Linked DNA regions of Homo sapiens: all the other regions are reported to be linked to region 1. The links are microRNA targets in miRTarBase. Many come from high-throughput screens and were not tested one by one. Region 1 holds a microRNA gene; each other region holds the end of a gene's coding sequence.
What was found. Region 1 holds the annotated microRNA hsa-miR-877-3p (UCCUCUUCUCCCUCCUCCCAG, at 4,993-5,013, shown strand). A microRNA usually pairs through its seed, bases 2 to 8, with sites in the 3' UTR of a target mRNA and lowers its output. Matches are read on the target gene's strand: a 7mer-m8 pairs with bases 2 to 8, a 7mer-A1 pairs with bases 2 to 7 and ends in A, and an 8mer does both.

Region 2: miRTarBase lists NIPA1 as a target of hsa-miR-877-3p. Seed matches in the 3' UTR shown: 7mer-m8 at 1,440-1,446 and 7mer-m8 at 5,050-5,056.
Region 3: the mRNA of CWC22 is a reported target of hsa-miR-877-3p. The part of its 3' UTR that is shown has no 7-base or 8-base seed match.

Annotation. Positions count from the first base shown.
Region 1 is chr6:30,579,405-30,586,603 of GRCh38, forward strand. MIR877 (microRNA 877) reads left to right here and starts at 4,928; the gene lies at 4,928-5,013. It overlaps ABCF1 (ATP binding cassette subfamily F member 1), which reads left to right. Exons shown (of 25, transcript NM_001025091.2): 7 at 527-601; 8 at 1,002-1,115; 9 at 2,990-3,103; 10 at 3,662-3,784; 11 at 4,204-4,304; 12 at 4,401-4,486; 13 at 4,788-4,927; 14 at 5,014-5,162; 15 at 5,856-5,939; 16 at 6,154-6,278; 17 at 6,475-6,587; 18 at 6,730-6,901; 19 at 7,070-7,144.
Region 2 is chr15:22,822,875-22,830,068 of GRCh38, forward strand. It overlaps NIPA1 (NIPA magnesium transporter 1), which reads left to right. Exons shown (of 5, transcript NM_144599.5): 5 at 854-6,915. The coding sequence ends at 1,365. Among named protein-coding and RNA genes, the nearest start is that of NIPA2, 12 kb to the right of the region's middle. RefSeq lists an enhancer at 4,015-4,767.
Region 3 is chr2:179,938,619-179,945,817 of GRCh38, forward strand. It overlaps CWC22 (CWC22 spliceosome associated protein), which reads right to left. Exons shown (of 20, transcript NM_020943.3): 20 at 6,258-7,097. The coding sequence ends at 6,511. Among named protein-coding and RNA genes, the nearest start is that of CWC22, 65 kb to the right of the region's middle.

The sequences.
Region 1 (7,199 bases):
TCAACTCATGATGGGATTATATCCAGATAAACCCATCATAAGTTGGAACTATTTTTTTTTTTTTTTTTTTTTGAGACGGAGTCTCACTCTGTTGCCAGGCTGGAGTGCAGTGGCGTAATCCTGGCTCACTGCAACCTCCGCCTCCCGGGTTCAAGTGATTCTCCTGCCTCAGCTTCCTGAGTAGCTGAGATTACAGGCACGTGCCACCACGCCCAGCTAATTTTTGTGTTTTTAGTAGAGACAGGGTTTCACCATGTTGACCAGGATGGTCTCGATCTCTTGACCTTGTGATCCACCTGCCTTGGCCTCCCAAAGTGCTGGGATTACAGGTGTGAGCCACCACGCCCGGCCAAGAACTATCATTTTTTATTTAAGTTTCTGGTGGGTTTATCGGGATGCAACCTGTCGTAAATGGAGGAGCATGTGTATGGTTAACACAGTAGACTCTCTAGAAATGCTTATTACACAGCAAAGTAGCACAATAATTTGTATGTATGTGTGTAATGTGTATGTGTGTCTCCTCCAGGCCGTATCTGAGGAACAGCAGCCTGCACTCAAGGGCAAAAAGGGAAAGGAAGAGAAGTCAAAAGGGAAGGCTAAGGTGAGAGAGTAACTAGCAGGAGGAGGTATTGGGGCCCAGGAATTAAAACATTTCATCAGGGCTGGGCGCGGTGGCTCACGCCTGTAATCCCAGCACTTTGGGAGGCCGAGGTGGGCGGATCACGAGGTCAGGAGATCGAGACCATCCTGGTAACACGGTAAAACCCCGTCTCTACTAAAAATACAAAAAAAATTAGCCGGGCGTGGTGGCGGGCGCCTGTAGTCCCAGCTACTCGGGAGGCTGAGGCAGGAGAATGGCGTGAACCCGGGAGGTGGAGCTTGCAGTGAGCCGAGATTGCGCCACTGCACTCCAGCCTGGGTGACAGAGCGAGACTCCGTCTCAAAAAAAAAAAAAGAAAAAAAAAAAAAACATTTCATCAGACCTGTCTTTTCCCTATTAGCCTCAAAATAAATTCGCTGCTCTGGACAATGAAGAGGAGGATAAAGAAGAAGAAATTATAAAGGAAAAGGAGCCTCCCAAACAAGGGAAGGAGAAGGCCAAGAAGGCAGAGCAGGTGTGTATTTGGTGTTGGGGCAAGGTGGAATGAGGGACTAGGGCTTCCAGGGTCCTTATGGGAGAGTTAGAATCTGGGGATATAGTTATTATCCCAGCAAACCTTTATTCTTTTCTTTTTTTGGGGGAGTAGTTGGGGTGGTGGTTCGTTTGTTTTTGTTTTTGTTTTTGTTTACACAGGATCTTACTCTGTCACTCAGGCTGGAGTGCAGTGGTGTGAACACGGCTCACTGAAGCCTCAACCTCCTGGGCTCAACAGATTCTCCTGCCTCAGCCTACTGAGTAGCTGGGACTACAAGTGTGCACCACTACCCCTGGCTAATTTTTTTATTTTTAGTATAGAGATGAGGTCTCACTATGTTGCTCAGGCTGGTCTTGAATTTCTGGGCTCAAGCAGTCCTCCTGCCTCAGCCTCCCAAAATGCTGGGTTTACAGGTGTGAGCCAGCATGCCAGCCAGCAAACTTTTTCTATAAAGGGCCATATAGTAAATGTTTTTGGCTTTGCAGGCCACATACAATCTCTATCACATATTCTTTTTTTTTTTTAACAACTCTTTGAAAATACAAAAATTATTTTTATAAAGTTCAGGAGCTATATAAAAATAAATGTCAGGTCAGCCTTGGCCCATGGGCTGTAGTTTGCAACACCTAATCCAGTGAAGAAAGGGCCTGGAATTTATCTCAGATGATCTGGGTCCTGGCTCTGCCTTCACTGGCTGTGTGACCTTGAATACATCTTCCCATCCCCTTGGGTCTCACTTGTCTCCTTTGTGTGATAGAAGGAGGAGTCCGGAGATCTCTAGGGTCCCTATGCGTCTGGCACTTCCTAATTCTGTGATTCTGCTGGATTCCTCTGACTGTGCACTAGAGCTTCCTGATCTTTTTTTTTTTTTTTTTTTTTTTGAGATGGAGTCTCACTCCGTTGCCCAGGCTGGAGTGCGGTGGCGCAATCTCAGCTCACTGCAACCTCTGCCTCCCGGGTTCAAGCAATTCTTCTGCCTCAGTCTCCCGAGTAGCTGGGACTACAGGCACGTGCCACCATGACCGGCTGATTTTTTGTGTTTTTAGTAGAGACAGGATTTCACCATGTTAGCCAGGATGGTCTTGATCTCCTGACCTTGTGATCTGTCCATCTTGGCCTCCCAAAGTGCTGGGATTACAGACATGAGCCACCGTGCCCGGACGGCTACCTGATCTTTTCTTTGCATGTTAACAAGGAAACCACAGAAACTCATTTTATACAAATGAAACTCTTGAAATCCATTTACTCCACCTTCAGTTACATTGTATTGGGAGTTACATTTATAGGGACATAACGCGTTGTCACATTTCATAAATACACATTCATACCATTTGTCTTGTACCATTCCTGGTAGCAGAAATTAATAAAGGACCTCAGGGAGACCAGGGGCTGGGTATGAGAATGAGAGAGGATCCCAAGATATTTTAGGACTCTGAGTAGTGAAGGAAAGAGCTGGGGCAGGGACAGGGGGCAGATGATGTGAAATCTGAGTTCTAGAAGGAGTCCCTAGTTTTTTTTTGTTGTTTTTTTTTTTGAGACGGAGTCTTGCTTTGTCACCCAGGCTGGAGTGCAGTGGCACGATCTCGGCTCACTGCAAGCTCCTCCTCCCAGGTTCACACCATTCTCCTGCCTCAGCCTCCCGAGTAGCTGGGACTACAGGCGCCCGCCACCACGTCCGGCTAATTTTTTGTATTTTTAGTAGAGATGGGGTTTCACCATGTTAGCCAGGATGGTCTTGATCTCCTGACCTTGGGATCTGCCCGCTTTGGCTTCCCAAAGTGCTGGGATTACAGGCGTGAGCCACCGCGCCCAGCCAGGAGTCCCTAGTTTTGACCATCCCCGGGTTCTCACAGGGTTCAGAGGAAGAAGGAGAAGGGGAAGAAGAGGAGGAGGAAGGAGGAGAGTCTAAGGCAGATGATCCCTATGCTCATCTTAGCAAAAAGGAGAAGAAAAAGCTGAAAAAACAGGTAAGACCTTGGTTCTTAGCGGTCAAAAGTAGGGGATTTTTAAATACTTCAACTAGGGGACATGCGATTGGGGACACGAAGGAAAGGTTTGGGGGCTACTCCAAGTAAAACAATCGGAGTAAGAAAATAATTGTGTTCTGTGAACCTTATCTCAATGTCTGATGACATGGGCTGTTTCACTTTGGGGTTTTTTGTTTATTTTTTGAGACAGGGTCTCACACTGTTACTCAGGCTGGAGTGCAATGACGTGATCTCTGTTCACTGCAGCCTCAACCTACCAGGCTCAAGTGATCCTCCCACCTCAGCCTCCCGAATAGCTGAGACTATGGGTGGCACCACCATGCCTGGCTAATTTTTGTATTTTTTGTAGAGACAGTATTTTAGCATGTTGGCCAGGCTGGTCTCAAACTCCTGAGCTCAAGAGATCCACCTACCTCAGCCTCCCAGAGTGCTGGGATTACAGGCGTGAGCCAGCATGCCCAGCCAGCATGGGCTGTTTCATGGTGATGGGAAACTGGTAGACTGTGGCTTCAAATGTAGTTTTTCCTACCTTCTCAGATGGAGTATGAGCGCCAAGTGGCTTCATTAAAAGCAGCCAATGCAGCTGAAAATGACTTCTCCGTGTCCCAGGCGGAGATGTCCTCCCGCCAAGCCATGTTAGAAAATGCATCTGACATCAAGGTAAGGTCTCAAGGGGCCCCTTCCAGTCCACTTACCTAGGGAAGAGCCAGTTCTCTCATCTTCCCTGAGTGGCTGTGGTGTGTGAATGGGTTAGTTCAGTGGGAAGAAAGATTGGAGGCATTTTCCACACCTTAGGTTCTGCCAACTTGAGCAAGAAGATAGAAAAACCAGTAGAAGTGGGGTCCACCCTTGGCAGAAAATAGTGTGGGACAGACTAGACTAGCTGAGGATGCATGGGGCTCCCATTACAGGCAGCGAACAGGGCGGGGACCGGCTGTGGGGAGAGGAAGGGGATTATGCTGGAGGTAGCGGTTTGTCAGAGGCTTCCCTGCAGGGAGAAAGTGGCCGCTCCTGTCCCAAAGGGAGAATTTTCATGTGATCATCCCTTCCCTCTGCCACCTCTTTCCTGATGGCTGCAGCTGGAGAAGTTCAGCATCTCCGCTCATGGCAAGGAGCTGTTCGTCAATGCAGACCTGTACATTGTAGCCGGCCGCCGCTACGGGCTGGTAGGACCCAATGGGTGAGAAGAGGAGGGAGCTGGAGGCAAAAAAGGGCCTGGAGGGAAAAGAAGAGATTTCTCAGTGGTGGCCAGGTCCTAATAGCTTTTATTCCCCAGCAAGGGCAAGACCACACTCCTCAAGCACATTGCCAACCGAGCCCTGAGCATCCCTCCCAACATTGATGTGTTGCTGTGTGAGCAGGGTGAGACCACTGGGGAGAAAAGGGGCTTGGTGGGGTGGGCAGTTGGGTAGAAAAGCCAGCCAGCCAAGAATAGAAGAAATTGTGGCTATGGAGTTGGAAGGGATGTGGAGGGAGACTGGAGACCGGGAAAGGGATGCTAAGGAAAGGAGGGGAGGGTCAATGAGGAACTTGAGAGTGTTTTATTTGGAACAAGTACAAAGAGCTGGGCAGGGTCAGGCAAAACAGAAATGTAATTGAAGGGAAAGAAAGATGAGACTCTTGGCTCTTGAGGCTGCCTGACTGTTCTCCCTCTGCCTCCCAGAGGTGGTAGCAGATGAGACACCAGCAGTCCAGGCTGTTCTTCGAGCTGACACCAAGCGATTGAAGCTGCTGGAAGAGGAGCGGCGGCTTCAGGGACAGCTGGAACAAGGGGATGACACAGCTGCTGAGAGGCTAGAGAAGGTAGAGGAGATGGCGCAGGGGACACGGGCAAAGACTTGGGGGTTCCTGGGACCCTCAGACGTGTGTCCTCTTCTCCCTCCTCCCAGGTGTATGAGGAATTGCGGGCCACTGGGGCGGCAGCTGCAGAGGCCAAAGCACGGCGGATCCTGGCTGGCCTGGGCTTTGACCCTGAAATGCAGAATCGACCCACACAGAAGTTCTCAGGGGGCTGGCGCATGCGTGTCTCCCTGGCCAGGTGGGCCATTCACCTCACTGCCCTCCCTTCCAGCCTCAGACCACCGGGGCCCTTTTCCTCTTTCCCTTCTCATTCTTCCAAGGCCAATAGGGAGGCTCAAGGCTTACCTCTCCCTCCTTACTATCTGTGTTGTGAGAACTTAGGGTCTTTCTCTATTTATCTCCCTACTTGGTGGTGAGTTCTCATCAACATACCCTGCAGCTGGGTGCAATGGGTCACGCCTGTAATCCCAGCACTTTGGAAGGCAGAGGCAGGAGGATTATCTTCAACCCAGGAGTTTGAGACCAGCCTGGGCAATATAGTGAGACTCTATCTTCACAAAAGGGGGAAGAAAACATATCCTAGCCTGGGCAACATAGGGAGACCCTGTCTCTACAAAAAATTTAAAGATCAGCTGGATATGGTGGCGCACGCTGTGGTCACAGCTACTCTGGAGGCTGAAGTAGAAGTATCACTTAGACCTGGGAGATTTAGACTACAGTGAGCCCTTATTGTGCCACTGCACGACAGCCTGGGCAACAGGGCGAGACCCTGTCTCAAAAAAATTAAACCGTATCCTGCCCGAGAACTTCTCTGAGGAGAGCTTGGGAAGGAGTGTTCATGGTCTCAGGCTCTATCTCCGAGTTTTCTCTGGGGTTGTCTGAGCAAGGATCTTTCTCTCCCTGACCCTGCCCTCTGCTACCCACCCTCTAGGGCACTGTTCATGGAGCCCACACTGCTGATGCTGGATGAGCCCACCAACCACCTGGACCTCAACGCTGTCATCTGGCTTAATAAGTGCGTTACGGCCTTTGCATCATTGGTTCCCATTCTGCACTTTCTTCCCCTTCCCTCCCTGCCCTGTTTTCCTTTAGCCCTTCTCCACTGTGCCTGTGAGTGGAGCTCTATTCAGACCCCCCTTTCCCTCCCAGCCCCCGTTGTCTGCCTGCTTCCTCTGAATTCTCTCTCACTTGACCACTGTGACACTTACACCCTGTTCTCTGAAACCCAGCTACCTCCAGGGCTGGCGGAAGACCTTGCTGATCGTCTCCCATGACCAGGGCTTCTTGGATGATGTCTGCACTGATATCATCCACCTCGATGCCCAGCGGCTCCACTACTATAGGGGCAATTACAGTAAGTAGGATTGTGTGTGGATGCAGGGAAGAGATAGAACCTCGAAAAGAGGCCTGAGTGGGAGGGCCTATTTAGATAAACTGAATCCTGTCAGAATTCCAGACAGTGATGCCTACCCCATCACCACCAGTCCCTGGTTGTCCCTTTGCTGGGAAGAGGAGCAACCACTGATGCCTGGTCCCCTCTTCTGCCCCAGTGACCTTCAAAAAGATGTACCAGCAGAAGCAGAAAGAACTGCTGAAACAGTATGAGAAGCAAGAGAAAAAGCTGAAGGAGCTGAAGGCAGGCGGGAAGTCCACCAAGCAGGCGGTGAGCACCTGAGGGACTTCTGGGCTGGGGGCCACTGTTCTCTCCTGGCAGTGGAGGAAGAAGGAGACTCTGGAACGCTGGCCTACATTTCAAGGACTGCCGCGCAGGGCTCAGGTTTCTCTTTTTTCCTCTTCCTCTCCAGGAAAAACAAACGAAGGAAGCCCTGACTCGGAAGCAGCAGAAATGCCGACGGAAAAACCAAGATGAGGAATCCCAGGAGGCCCCTGAGCTCCTGAAGCGCCCTAAGGAGTACACTGTGCGCTTCACTTTTCCAGACCCCCCACCACTCAGCCCTCCAGTGCTGGGTCTGCATGGTGAGTGCCGCGGGCCTCTGCTGCTCCACAGGAAGCACCGGAAGCATGTATGTGCACCCTAAATTCTCCACCAAGGCTGAGATTGCTCCTGTTCTCCAAGGCCAGCACATGAGAGGGACTTTGCAGGGACTGAAAAGAATATAAATTGCTTCTTTTCGTGGCTTTCAGGTGTGACATTCGGCTACCAGGGACAGAAACCACTCTTTAAGAACTTGGATTTTGGCATCGACATGGATTCAAGGAGTGAGTTGGCGGGGTTGCCTCAGGGATGTGTAGCAGGAGCCACAGGGAGAGTCTC
Region 2 (7,194 bases), not on the chromosome of region 1:
GAGGACCATGTAAACATTTAGGAGCTGTAAATGGTTTTTTTTTTTTTTTTTTTTTTTTTTTTGAGACGGACTCTTGCTCTGTCGCCCAGGCTGGAGTGCAGTGGTGTGATCTCGGCTCACTGCAACCTCTGCCTCCCGGGTTCAAGCGATTCTCCTGCCTCAGCCTCCTGAGTAGCTGGGATTACTGGTGCATGCCACCACGCCTAGCTAATTTTTTGTATTTTTAGTGGAGAACAGGGTTTCACCAAGTTAGCCAGGATGGTATTGATCTCCTGATCGGCCCACCTCGGCCTCCCAAAGTGCTGGGATTACAGGTGTGAGCCATTGTGCCCTTCTGTAAATTTTTTTTTTTTTTTCTGAGATGGAGTCTTGCTCTGTCACCCAGGCTGGAGTACAGTGGTTTGATCTCGGCTCACTGCAACCTCCACCCCCTAGGTTCAAGTGATTCTCCTGCCTCAGCCTCCCAAGTAGCTGGGATTACAGGCGCGCTGTAATTTTTGTACTTTTAGTAGAGACGGGGTTTCACCATCTTGGCCAGGCTGGTCTTGAACTCCTGACCTCATGATCCACCTGCCTTGGCCCCCCAAAGTGCTGGGATTACAGGCATGAGCCACCGCGTCTGGCTAACCCGGCTGTAAATGTTTTAACAGTGAAAATGATGGGAATACTTTTGTGGAATGAAATCAGTGGGTCTGGTAAATTCAAGCCAGAGCCCACATGCTCCCCAGGGCTGTGCCGCAGTAGAGGCCGGTGGCGGGTGGCGGGTGGGGGCCCGGGTGCTGCCCCAGTCCACCTCCTGGGTTGCGGCTGCTAGGCGGTGGCTCCGGGTGACTGTGTGCTGTCTGTGTTCCAGTGTTTGTGGGCTACCTGTGCATCGTGCTGCTCATGCTGCTGCTGCTCATCTTCTGGATCGCGCCGGCCCATGGGCCCACCAACATCATGGTCTACATCAGCATCTGCTCCTTGCTGGGCAGTTTCACCGTGCCTTCCACCAAGGGCATCGGGCTGGCGGCCCAAGACATCTTGCATAACAACCCGTCCAGTCAGAGAGCCCTCTGCCTGTGCCTGGTACTCCTGGCCGTGCTCGGCTGCAGCATCATCGTCCAGTTCAGGTACATCAACAAGGCGCTGGAGTGCTTCGACTCCTCGGTGTTCGGGGCCATCTACTACGTCGTGTTTACCACGCTGGTCCTGCTGGCCTCAGCCATCCTCTTCCGGGAGTGGAGCAACGTGGGCCTGGTGGACTTCTTGGGGATGGCCTGTGGATTCACGACCGTCTCCGTGGGGATTGTCCTTATACAGGTGTTCAAAGAGTTCAATTTCAACCTTGGGGAGATGAACAAATCTAATATGAAAACAGACTAGATTGCAATAGGAGCTTGGATGGTTCGAGGAATAGGCATTGGAGGTGGTTTCTGGCCGTGATTGGATGTGAAGTAGAAGAGGTCCTCGATCATGGTGTTAGAATTGACTGGATAGTAACAGGTGGTCTGGTGGATAGCGGGGAGCATGGCTCAGCACCAGAGCAGAGGCCCAGCCAGCCCTCTGCAGCCCAAACGTCCCCAACGGTTGCCTGGCACCATCTCTCTCTGATGAGACGAATCTCATTTTCATTTCCATTAACCTGGAAGCTTTCATGAATATTCTCTTCTTTTAAAACATTTTAACATTATTTAAACAGAAAAAGATGGGCTCTTTCTGGTTAGTTGTTACATGATAGCAGAGATATTTTTACTTAGATTACTTTGGGAATGAGAGATTGTTGTCTTGAACTCTGGCACTGTACAGTGAATGTGTCTGTAGTTGTGTTAGTTTGCATTAAGCATGTATAACATTCAAGTATGTCATCCAAATAAGAGGCATATACATTGAATTGTTTTTAATCCTCTGACAAGTTGACTCTTCGACCCCCACCCCCACCCAAGACATTTTAATAGTAAATAGAGAGAGAGAGAAGAGTTAATGAACATGAGGTAGTGTTCCACTGGCAGGATGACTTTTCAATAGCTCAAATCAATTTCAGTGCCTTTATCACTTGAATTATTAACTTAATTTGACTCTTAATGTGTATATGTTCTTAGATTAGAATAATGCAACTTCGAGTATGCTTTAATATTTCAATATTCAAGTTACAAATGTATAAGGCAGTTAGAAATAATACAGTCACATGTCACTTAATGATAGGGAAACATTCTGAGAAATGCATTGTAAGGTGACTTTATTGTGTGAACATCATGGAGTGCACTTATACAAACCTAGATGGGACACCTATGACCCACCCAGGCCAGATGGTACAGCCTGTTGCTCCTGGGCCACACACCTGTACAGCATGTGACCGCACTGAATACCGCAGGCAATTGTAACACAGTGGTGAGTATTTGTGTTTACAAACATAGGAAAGGTACAGTAAAACTATGGTATTACAATGTTATGGGACCACCGTCATGTAAGTGGTATGTCTTTGACAGAAACATGGTTACGTGGTTCATGACTGTATATTCACTGGAAGATAGTCAAGACTAAAGACACATTAGAGCAAATTGACCCCTTTAACATGTGATTATTGTCCAATTAAAGACAGTTGATTTAAGTAGCATGAGGTATTATTTTATTTGTATTCGATCTGTGTTACCTGGGATCCAGTATCAAATATATCCACATTCTTTATCAGCAAGCATTCATGGCCATTCAGAAGAAATAAATTAGGTAACTTGATAATAAGGCTAAGTGGGAGAGTACCTGTTCAATAGCTCATATATCGAGTACCCTGTCATACAGGAACAAGTTAAAGGACACAATTGAGGTTAGGCTAGCTTCTACAAATTGCAATATGCAGTTTTTGAAAGATTTTCTAACAAAAAGCCAATAAATGTAGCCATCTCCTTGTTGTTTGCAATGGCAGAGCATCCTAGAGTTCCTCAGCTAACCTCTCATTATGTGTCTTAAATGCAAAAGAGCCATTAATTATGCCAGTATTTGAATCAAAGAGGTCATTCTCTGTCTATAGTGTTCCCATCCATGTGTTCCAAATGGGAGCATAGCATGAAGTGATGCACATATTTCACCACGGTATCATGTACTTCATGGCCAGTGTTTTATCTCAGCAGGGAACTACGCCAAGTTGAAAGATGGGGTTGGGTAAAGTAGATTAGGTGAAGTAGAACATAAAATTGAATAGTACCCAATTAAAGTTCCTCAGTAAGAAAAAAAATGTGTTTTTGTAGGCAAAAAGAACATTTCTAAAGTCTCAAGGAATAGCTTCCTAAAGTGTTGAGTAAAGAGGCTAAATAAAATGAGACTAGTTTAATATAGAGAGAAAAATACCTTTATGGAGTAAACGTGTACATGATGATCATGGGTTGTCAGTGATTTGTGAACTGAGAGCAGCAACAACATTATTTTTTAAAAATCTTAAATCCTCTCAATGGATGGTTAACAAATGCTCAAAGTCCATTACTCTTTTTATTGGCTCTTGCAGGTTTTGTGTTTTATCATCAGTGCTTTTAGAAATGCAGGCCTTAACTTACTGAACTGAACTTTCTGAAAACGTAATGTAGCAGTATCAATATACTTTTGGGCATAAAAATAGTTTCCTAGGTAAGGGGTGTGAGATATTCAAAGAATACATGTGGCTAACAAGTGTAATGAGAAAGTTCATGTGTCACATGAAAATGATCATGTTTGTGTTGCTACAGCTTTTGTGGGAAATTTAGTTTAAAGGCAGCTCTTGGTGTACCTTAGTATATTTTAATCCACAATTATACCATTGATACTGAGAGGTGATACCCGATGATCTTCTCTATAATATTCTTAGAGTAAAACAAAATCTCAAAAGTATTAATAGCTCTTCTACCCTTGAAGGTGACTGGTCCTGGGACAGTTAGAATCTTTCAGGTTTACCTCTGTTCAGCAGATACTTCAGTAGGATACATAGCTTTTCTTCCAGTGAAACAAAGTTCATATCATCCATTGTTTTTCAAGCACGTGACACCAGCCTCAAAGTAAATGACATGACCAGTGGTTGAACAGTCTAATTTTCAAATTTAATATAGAGCATATAACTTCTGATTTGATAGTATTTATTTTAAAAAATTATGTTTTCATCATTCATTTGAAAATGAAAAAGCCCCAAAGTGAGAACTTTGGGGGAGGGCCTAGAACATGGATAGATCTCTTAGTGGTCTTTCCAAAAGTACATGTACTTGAAATATTTTCATTATCATACTATTCTTTGAAAAAAAAGATGCTTACTGTATACTTGTTTTCAAGCATCCTCTAAAATCAAAGGTTTTGATCACAATATGCAGATTTCTCTTGATAGATACTTAAATAGGCTATTTCTCTCCTCTTCTTGGGCAATGCCTTGTTTTCTCCTCTGAATATTTGCATTTGAAAGGATTGCTTCCTGTTCTGCTCATTGATCAAAGGTAGGGCCAATTAAGGATTCTAACCCTAACCCAGCACCACAAAGCCCCCCTGGAGCATCTTCCCGGCTGGCAGGACCATGCCATCTCTGTGGAGAAGGTGCTGGGGAGGGAAGTCCTTCCAGTGCCACATGGAGTGAGGCCCTGCCCATGCTGGGGACTTTGGGGAGGAATTTGGTATTCTGGTGGCCTTGCTCAGCTCTCATTGAGATCTTTTCCTATCAGAATGTTAGTGAATATACTTCGCAGCTCTTTGTTCAGCAATAAGGAATATTCTTTCAATTCCTGCTCTTCAAGCCAATTTACTACACCCAGTTGTCTTTCCAGAAGTTCATCCCAGCGGTAATATGTTGGTGTTTGTTCTTCTTTGGATTTCACATCTGTTTTCTGGTAGAAGTGAGCACTGTTCACTTGTGCAGTCGTCTTATTTTCCTTCTTCCTAGATGACTCAGCTCTTTGTAAATGTTGTGCTCAACTTCTAGGGGCCAGTTCTAGACTTTGGAGATGCAGTGTCTCCCAGGTGTGCACGGACACCTGGTCCGTGGAAACAGGTGTGATGGGCACAGGCTGCTGCCCTTCTGTCTGGTCGGGGGATTCCTCTTCTTCAAGCTGCTCAGCTAACCCAGAAGAGGGGAGAGAGTACTCCGGTGGTTCCCAGAGCCCCTCCCGTTGTGCCGCTTCGACCTGACACCTGCTCGATGCTGACTTAGGCTTCCTGCCACCAAGCAGGAAACTAGAAAGAGAACATTTCAGTGTAAGGTCTGTTCCCGACAGCATGGATTAGCTTCCGTGTTCTGAAGTTGTTCTTTTCATGGTGTCTGACACCGAGGGCGTTGTTCGTCCATCAGGCGGGATTGGATGGAGTCTTGGTGTTTTGCCTTCTCAGGGACCAAAAATGTATCATTGACTCCTTAACAGTGACCTTCCTCCCAAGGACATATCCGTGTTCATTTTTCATAGGTTTTACTCATATTCATAGGTAGATTCTGTTAATGTGAGTTGGAAAGAAAAGACCAATTTGTACACCAGTCACACCACAAGACAGTTTATCATATAAAATACCTCAATTTTTTGTATTCCTCATTTCCACCTCACAATTGTACTGGTGATGAATTTTAAGGGTCTGTCCTTTAGCTTATAGGTGATGTTTCACATCTGGCCAGATTCTTATACCTCCATTGTATACTTGAAAAGGTTCAGAATTACAGGAACAGCAGTGAGAATTTGGCCCACTACCACGACTCATTTGTTTCATTCACATTCCTCACGTGCAACAACATAATTATATTTTAAGAAAATGTAACTTTGTTACATCAAAATATGTTGTCTAGTAAAAAGTTGATATTCAGTAGAACAAGGATCATGTAAATAAACATCTATTTCACATGTACCCAAAAGCATTTAAAAAGCAGAATCCAGGGCCCAGAGCATGAGCCAGGGAGGAGGATGTTTTTCTTCTTTTCTCTATTTTTCCCTAAATTGTGCAAACATAGGTGAGTCTCTTAACCTTTCTGTGCCTCAGTTTTTCTACCTCTAAAGGGGTGGGATGGTTCTTCAAATTGTTTCTAAAACACCGGCACTTTCAGCAGTGTTCTGGTGGCCTGAGATGAGAGCACCGTGTTCAGAAGTGCCTGGGAGTGGCACAGTGGAAACTCCGCTTGCACGGACCATGGAGTCTGCTCAGGACCATGCTGTAGGACACACAGCCTCATGCGCTGAGAAAGCAAAGGAAGTGCTGGGTGTAAAGTTTGCATGATTCCATGAAGCTTTAGTTTTCCTTTTTTTGTTTTAAAAGAAAGGGTTTTATATGTTCTATTGTAAAATATGGAAATTAAACAGGGACTTCAGAAAGCCGCACAGAAAGATCACCTTCCGATGGTGTGATGTGCTCCTGACATTCGGCCGAGGTCTGTATTCTGAAAAAGATTTAATGGCCTGTGAAACACGTGGATTCTGTTGCACTGGATTTGTAATAAATGACGCTGAACTTCCTGCTTCCAAGCAGCTCAACCCTGATGCTGAACTGACACCAGGCGAATGTCAGGGCTCCCAAACCACTAGTGCCAAAGGGTCATGTTGAAAAGTTCAGAATATTTATTTGTCAGAATATAATAATTGCCCCCCACCTTAGTATTTTTGCACTTTACAGAAATTTAGATACTGTTTTTCAGTGGCTTGAGCGTTTTGCCTTTTCAAAGGATAACTATTATTTTCTTGAAAATGGAATATAATCATGAGAGGAAGAAGATGTAAAAAATGTCAAATGTTGATTGGTTGTGTAAAAGTTTTGTCATAGACATGTATTGGGGAGCTTCCAATTAGCATACATAGACACATGTGTCAGTGGCCAAGACCTGCTTATATTTTGCTTTATAGATGTAGTCATAGCATGTTGTTATTGCCTCATGTAAATAAAAAGGCTATTAAGTTTTCCAGTAATATTTATTAATCTGTATGTGTTTTAAAATAAAATAACTTATTTCTAGCTGAACATTTGTTGATTTTTTTTTTTCCCTTTACTTGAAATGCTTATGTAGTCTCAGGTTCCAGATCATCCCAGTTCCTCCCATTTTTCCTATTCTCTTTTTAGAAATGAGTAGCCTAGGCTGGGTGCAGTGGCTCATGCCTGTAATCGCAGCACTTTAGGGGGCTGAGGCGGGTGGGACACTTGAGGCCAGGAGTTTGAGACCAGCCTGGTCAACATGGTAAAACCCCATCTCTACTAAAAAATAACAAAAATTAGACAGGCATGGTGGTGCACATCTGTAGT
Region 3 (7,199 bases), not on the chromosome of region 1:
ACAGGAACAGAAACCAAATACCACATTTCTCGGTCGTAAGTGGGAGCTAATATGGACATAAACATTGGAACAATAGACACCACAGACTACTAGAGAGGGGAGGGAGGGGATGGGGATGGCAGCATAAGTCGAAAAACTACCTATTGGGTACTAGCTCATTACCTGGGTCTCACATACCCATGTAACAGTCCTACACGTGTATCCCCATATCTAAAATAAAAGCTGAGGCCAGTCAGGGTGGCTCACGCCTGTAATCCCAGCAGTTTGGGAGGCCGAGGCAGGCAGATCATGAGGTCGGGAGTTTGAGACCAGCCTCGCCAACGTGGTGAAACCCCATCTCTACTAAAAATACAAAAATTAGCCAGACATGGTGGCAGATGCCTGTAATCTCAGCTGCTTGGGAGGCTGAGGCAGGAGAACCACCTGAACCTGGGAGGCGGAGGTTGCAGTGAGCCAAGATCACACCGCTGCACTCCAGCTTGGGCGACAGAGTGAGACTCTGTCTCGAAAAAAATAAAATAAAATAAAATAAAAGCTGAAATTTTAAAAAAAGGATAAATGATAAAAATGATCTCAATACACAATGCATTAAGTACTGATTACAGGGTCTTTTAACACATGGGGCTTGAATTGCTTACTTTTATGAGAGTAGCAAGGAAGATGTGCTGAATTTTGAAAGATTTGGATAGGCAAACAGAAAAGGATATTTCAAGTGGAGGGTACACTGGAGGCAGACATCCAGAGATGAGAAAGAACAATGTCTTTTCAGGACAGTAAATAACCAGCCCTGTCCAGCAGTGTTTGTGCAGCAAGGCAATCAGCAAAAAACGTTTTCATTTGTCAAGCGGGATCACGTGGCTGATGCAGTCCTGGCTCTGCCATGTCTTAGCTGGGTAAACACCAGCGTGCAAGCTGTAAAATTGGGATATCTCTTACCTTACAGTTGTTCCTGTAAAAATCAGACACTGACAAGCCTGTCACATCGTCTTGCTTAAAGGATGGCAGCTCCTAGAGCAAACATTAAGAAAACACAGGTTGAACTTGGACTTTAAAGAAACTAAAGTAACAGGGTGGAAATTTACATTTATCCTATGGGCTGGAAGAGTCATTGCTTCAATGTATAAGGCAGTGACAAGATGAAAATAATGCTTTCGATTAATCTGAATCTAGGTAGATGATACCTAAGTGGTCTCTCAGCTTTTCTGAATGGCTAACATTTTTCAAAGTATAAGTTTTTATTTTTTAAAAAACTTGACTATTTTCTGCTTCCTCCTGTAATAATTTAGGCTCAACTGAGAAGAGGTCCCCGTTGCTCATGGCTATATCCTCAGCAACTAGCATAGTATATGACACACAGCAGAGATAAACAATAAACTATTGTCTAACAGTTGAAACAGAAAAGAAAAAGTAAAAAGGGCCAGAACTATGGTGACAGCAGTTTGTGTGGGAAGATAGGGGTGCATGCCAAAGTTTTCCAAAGCAATTTGGTGATTTGGATATAGACTAGCAATGAAAACTCAGGTGATGGGAGATTGGTGGAACCAATTGCAGGAGATTAGAAAATATGCAGATTTTAGGAAAAACGAATTGTATTTTACATCCCTGGATTACAAGGAGGGAGTAGGCCAATGAAATGCAGAACTAAAACTTGACAAAAGTTTTAGAGCAATTTAGCTAGCGGGGATTACTGAGGTTAGCAAAGTAAAAGGTGTTTCAAGAAAGATGAAGGACCTTATCTTCCCACTCTATGAGGAGCAGAAACCAAAAAATGACCTTCTATGTCTAACAGTGCCATTCCAAAATTAAGTAATAGTTTTTGAGGGTCTAGAGTGGAGTCACAAATTAGCTACTGTAAAGTTAGTTTGCCTGTAGATCATTTTGTTTGGACAGCTTAATTCTGGCCTATTTAATAGTCAACATTTAAAAATCAGAAGCTCCATAAAAATTCGGATTATTTAATTCTTTCAAATACCAGGGAGATGGTCAACCTTGTCTTCATTTTAACAGGCAGAATTGGATGAAGCTGAGTAAATGGTGCTGCCTTTAAATGACTCCAGTTCACTACCCAATTTGTCTCATTTGTGATTTTCACCTGGCCCCTGTAGGTATTAGAGTTTGCAATTCCTGGTCTAATGGTATTATGTCAGCTTTAATGAAAATGGTTAAGAATAAAACCAGTAACAGCAATAATAGCACACTGAGCACTTAGTTGCAGGCACTAAGTATGCCACAGAGATCACCCACCATTTGAGGGAGGTGCTATAATTGTACCATTGTACAGGTAAAAAACTAAGAGGTTCAAAGACCTGCCTAAATGTCAACAGCCAGAAAGGGGTAATGGTAAGATTAAAAATCCAGTCAGACTTAATTTGCAGTTGCCAAATAGTATTCAAATTAAATGGTACTAAGTTACCCTATATGAAATCTGAGTCTTTTCCTAAAAGCAGATACCTCCATTTCAGCCACAGGAACTTGTGCTCTTTTCCGCAGTAAATACACGGACATGCACACCTCTGTGTGACTTTGGGTTGTTATCTCATTGCCTCTTACCTGTGCCTAAGATGATCTGAGATGAACTCAATAGCTTAGTTTCTTGCCATAAATCATGAACTTTGGGTGGCGGGAGGGGAAGGTGGGAGTGGTAGAGACTTGTCTTCATTTTTATGTCTAGTAAACATAAAATGCATAGATGCAATTAACCAACTTCAAGAAACTGAAGTTCTAATTGGAGATATGCAACAGACTCAGAGGTTTTTAATGAGGTTTAGTAATATGTGGGTGAGTATAAATGGAAGTTGTAGAGCATATTCAAGGTTGAGGGGACACAAGACATCACAATGAGAGCCAGGAACACCATTTGGAGATGTTTCAATGAGTGTTTCAAAGTGTGTAATGTGAAAATGTCCATGTTAAGGGAACAGGTTTCCAAGATGTCACATTGGGCACTCTGAGCTCTCTCCTAAAGTATCAGTGGGTGTTAAAGTTTGCTTGGCTGAATAAATATTCCGTGGAATATACACAGAACAGAATGAAAGAACTTGAAAGATCAGACAGAAAAGACATTTGACTATATTGGAAGAAGTGAGAATTGGATTGGAAAACAAAGGCATCAGGATTCTAAAAAAATCTATGGGGAAGACTTTAATCTGCTAATCTATGAATTTTTTGGGGGGGGGGATTACACGTCAGTTAAGTCAAAATCAAAATGGTGTAAACAAAGCAAGTCAAGAATAAAAACCTCACTCATAACTATCTGGGATAGCCAAAACCTTTGTTTCTGATAATACATTTGAGAAATGTGAAGTAGTGGTATAAGACACAGGAAGTAGGTTGCTTGAGCTAACAGGATACGTACATCTGGGAAACAGGTACTATGATAGAAGTGATGGATAATTACTCTGTCACACCTTAACTCCAAAACAATCAATTCATTTTGCTGTGCTACTTTAACACGATTCTGGTTTTTTTCAACTATAAATGGCATTACAGATGGAATGAAGCAATCAATGAACCAGTTGATGAGCCTGAATTTTCTTCCACATCTTTGCTGTATGCTATGAAAAAGAACTCTGCTAAATGCCCACTGTGTTACATGGTATTCTAGGGCCTTTGACTTCATTATTTCATATAATAATCACTACAACTGTGTAAGGTAGACAAAAGTATTTTAAAGGTGAATCAGAAGGTCAGAAAAGTGAAATAATTTGCCTAAGTTCACACAGCTGCTAGGAGACAGAGCTGATTCTCAAATCCTTCTCTCTGGCTTTTATTCATCCTCCAGTTGTGCTTTGGAATGAAGATGATCTGAGTTAAATACTGCTACTTATCAACTTTGTGGCCTGAGCCTAATTAGTCTCTTTGGACTCCAGTCTCCTCTTCTGTGATGTAGGAAGACAATACCAATTCTCATGGGGTTGTTTTGAAAGAATTAAATTCGTTATTTGTTCATTTATCTATTCGAATGATAGATCACGGAATGAGGGAAGTAAAGAAGTGCTGGGGTGGGGATTGGTAACTGATTGTAACAAAGTCAATGGATCAGAAGGTTTGCTGAGGTGAAGGATTTCTAGAATAGTGGTACTAAAGCAGGTGAACTGGTTGGGAAGTGGCCAAAGTATGATGCTTCAAGGAGGGATTTCAGAGGTGGTATGATTTGAAAGCCAACCTAACGGGGATGACAATGGGAGTAGGTAGCTAGGGATGTAGAATTAGAACTTTGGAAGCAAGGAAATTGAGAACCTGAAAAGGAATGAGCATGCAAAGTATCTAGAATTCAGTTGATCCTTAAAAAATACTAACTCTGAAATAGTGTAAAAATATAGAAATAGCAAACATAGGCAACATGTTTCTTGTTTACACATTAAAAGAGTGAAGGTGAAAAATCTGCCTGAGCGGCAGACAGTACATGTGAATACATCATAGTTGATGCTGCAGAAATGCATTTTCAAAGCAGAACAGAATAGTTCCTCAATCCAGCTTCTAGTCTCTGCTTCTGATATAACTCACTTATACTCAAAATACTTCTGCTAGAGGTAGTTAGGTATTAATTGCTTGTATAAGAGTATAGAACATAGTGAGGAGCACACACACAAGACAAAACACAAGTTAAGTAGAATAGGAAATGTTAACAAAAATTTCCAGGCAATATTTGCTGTCAAAAAACATCTGTATTACAGCTGTTCCTTCTGCCTACAAGGTTCTTCCCAAGCAATCCACATGTCTCAAGCCCTCACTCTGTTCAGATATCTGGGCAAGCATCACCTCATCAAAGAACTGCTCTGTCTATACACCCTGTCCCCCAATCACTCAGTCTCGCCTTTCTCTGCTTTACTTTTCTTCATAGCACTTACCACTACTGGATATATCATATATTTATTTATTTACTGTCTTTGTTTACCATTTCCCTCCCCTGAACTATAAGTCTCAACGAGTAGAGACTCTGTTCACTGTTTTATCTCTAGTACCTAAAACAAACCTGAGCAAACAGTAGAAGATTAATACATATTAATAACATTTTAAAAATAATCTAATAACTCTAAGGTCTTAAGCACTTAATAAAATGAATGGGTTCCCATTTTTACATGTAAAAGTCATGAACTAAGGTTAAAGTGTAGAAAATAAACTAAAATTTCTAGTCTACTGTTTTTTCCTTTTTACCAACCCTGAAGATGAGGGTTCAGGTAAAAAAAAAAAAAAAAACTATTTCCCTTAGGGCTCATGGCCTACATGTTTGTTAAATCCAATTTGCTCAGCTTGTAAGTTCTGTGGAATGCACTGTCCATGATGGTCCCTTCCAATGACACCAAATTTTAACCACCACAAAGGGAGAAAACACTAAAAGGAATTTATCCAAGCTGTCTCATTCGAATGAATGCTTTTTGTGAGTTGGTGGGGAGAAGGAGCGGATATTTCTTTACATGAATTTTATTGTTATTTATACTCAAGTTAAACAACAAAAATAGGAAACATTTTGAATCAGCATATGCCCAAAAACTAAACATTAAAATGGTGGTCCCACTATTCCTGAAACCAAACATTGGCTAAAATGAACTATATGCACCTTTAAGGTGAGCAAACACAAGAAGCCTATATTTAGCAAGGAAGTTAAAATGTTTGTCAGCAAGTCTAATATCTTAGAGGAAATATTTATTTCAAAAGTAATAACTAATGTGGTCATATTAATTAATCAGTTAACAGTTACAATGATGGAAACCCTTAAAATTCATATAAAAAACTGAAATTACATTTAGGCTGCTTGCATATTTCACAACTATATGTTTTCCAATGATCTATTAACCTAAACTAAAAATTAAATACACATTAATTCATCAACAGTGATATAACTTCAAGGCTGAGAAAAATGCACTAATCACAAAGAATTTCAATTAAATGATATCAAGGAGTCCAGAGAGAAGAAATATTTCCTGTGGGAGAAGTTCTAATTATAAATAACTGCGTATTGGTTTAAAGAGTAACATACACCTAGCTTTACCAACACTTGTGAAAAAAATTACACATTACATACTTTGTTCAAAGCCTAATATGAAAATTGTAACAAATCCTCTACTGAAAAAAAAAAAAGTGACTACCTGAAAAAGATTCATAACATCTCATTAACAAAGCAAAACTGTTAAACTGAAAAGGTTCACCTGTTTTGGTCTTCAGTTACAAACAAAAAAGCACTGATAATTCACTATAACAGCTTCTTAAACAACTAAAAAAATATTTTGTCAATTGAAAAAACATCACTGAATCAATGAGCTTTTGATCATTTTATTCACAAAATATAAGCGAGACTTACATCCCTTTCTGGTGAAAGTTTTCAAATAATTTTATGGGTAGGGCCTTGAGATGTATCAATTATAAAACATGTTAAAATGAAAACATTTTTTAAATTTACAAATACAAACCAATACTTTATACAAGAATTCTCTATAAAGTTCGTCAAAGTAAAAAATAATTTGTTTCAACTGAATATAAGGCATGTCCAGTTTATGTCATTTTGTAGAATTATTTTTGTTTTGCTGGAGACTTTTCTCTTCGCCGGTCCTGATTTTTCTTTGATTCTCTGGATTGTTCAGAGTATCTGCTAGATTTTTCCCATCGTCTCTCGGCACCATTTTGATATCTATCTTCATCACTTCTTGAGCCTGAGTGCTTTCTATTCATTTCCTTTGACTTTGATCTATCTTTTCTTCTGAAATTTTCACTGTCTTTAATTCGGTGTGTATGCTTCTCATTTTCAGAAAAAGAATTTCTTCTCTCTCCTCTCTTCTTTTTGGGATCACCATGCTTATTTTCCAAATCTATATGCATTTCTTGGTCTCTGTCATTCGCAACTCTACTGTAGTTATTTCGTTCAGAAGGAACATCTTTGTCTGATGTGTACTTTGTTATAGGATCTCTCCAATTTGAACCACTTGAATTTTGATCTCTGTGTTTTTCTGACCTTCTTTCTCTCTCAGTCCTTGTTTCCTGGTGCCCGTGTTCTTGTCTTCTTTCTTTTTGTTTCCTATCATTTGTTTGCTGGTTTCTGATCAATTTATCTACCTCTTTACTTCTGGTCTTCCCATGTCCCTTCTTTCTTACATCATTAGCTGCGTGTGTAAAATAAAAGACAGTTAGCTTTTATTTCAATCTTAATTTCATAATTATAACAATCACATTTACTGATACAGTGTAGGTTTACTAACTCAGAT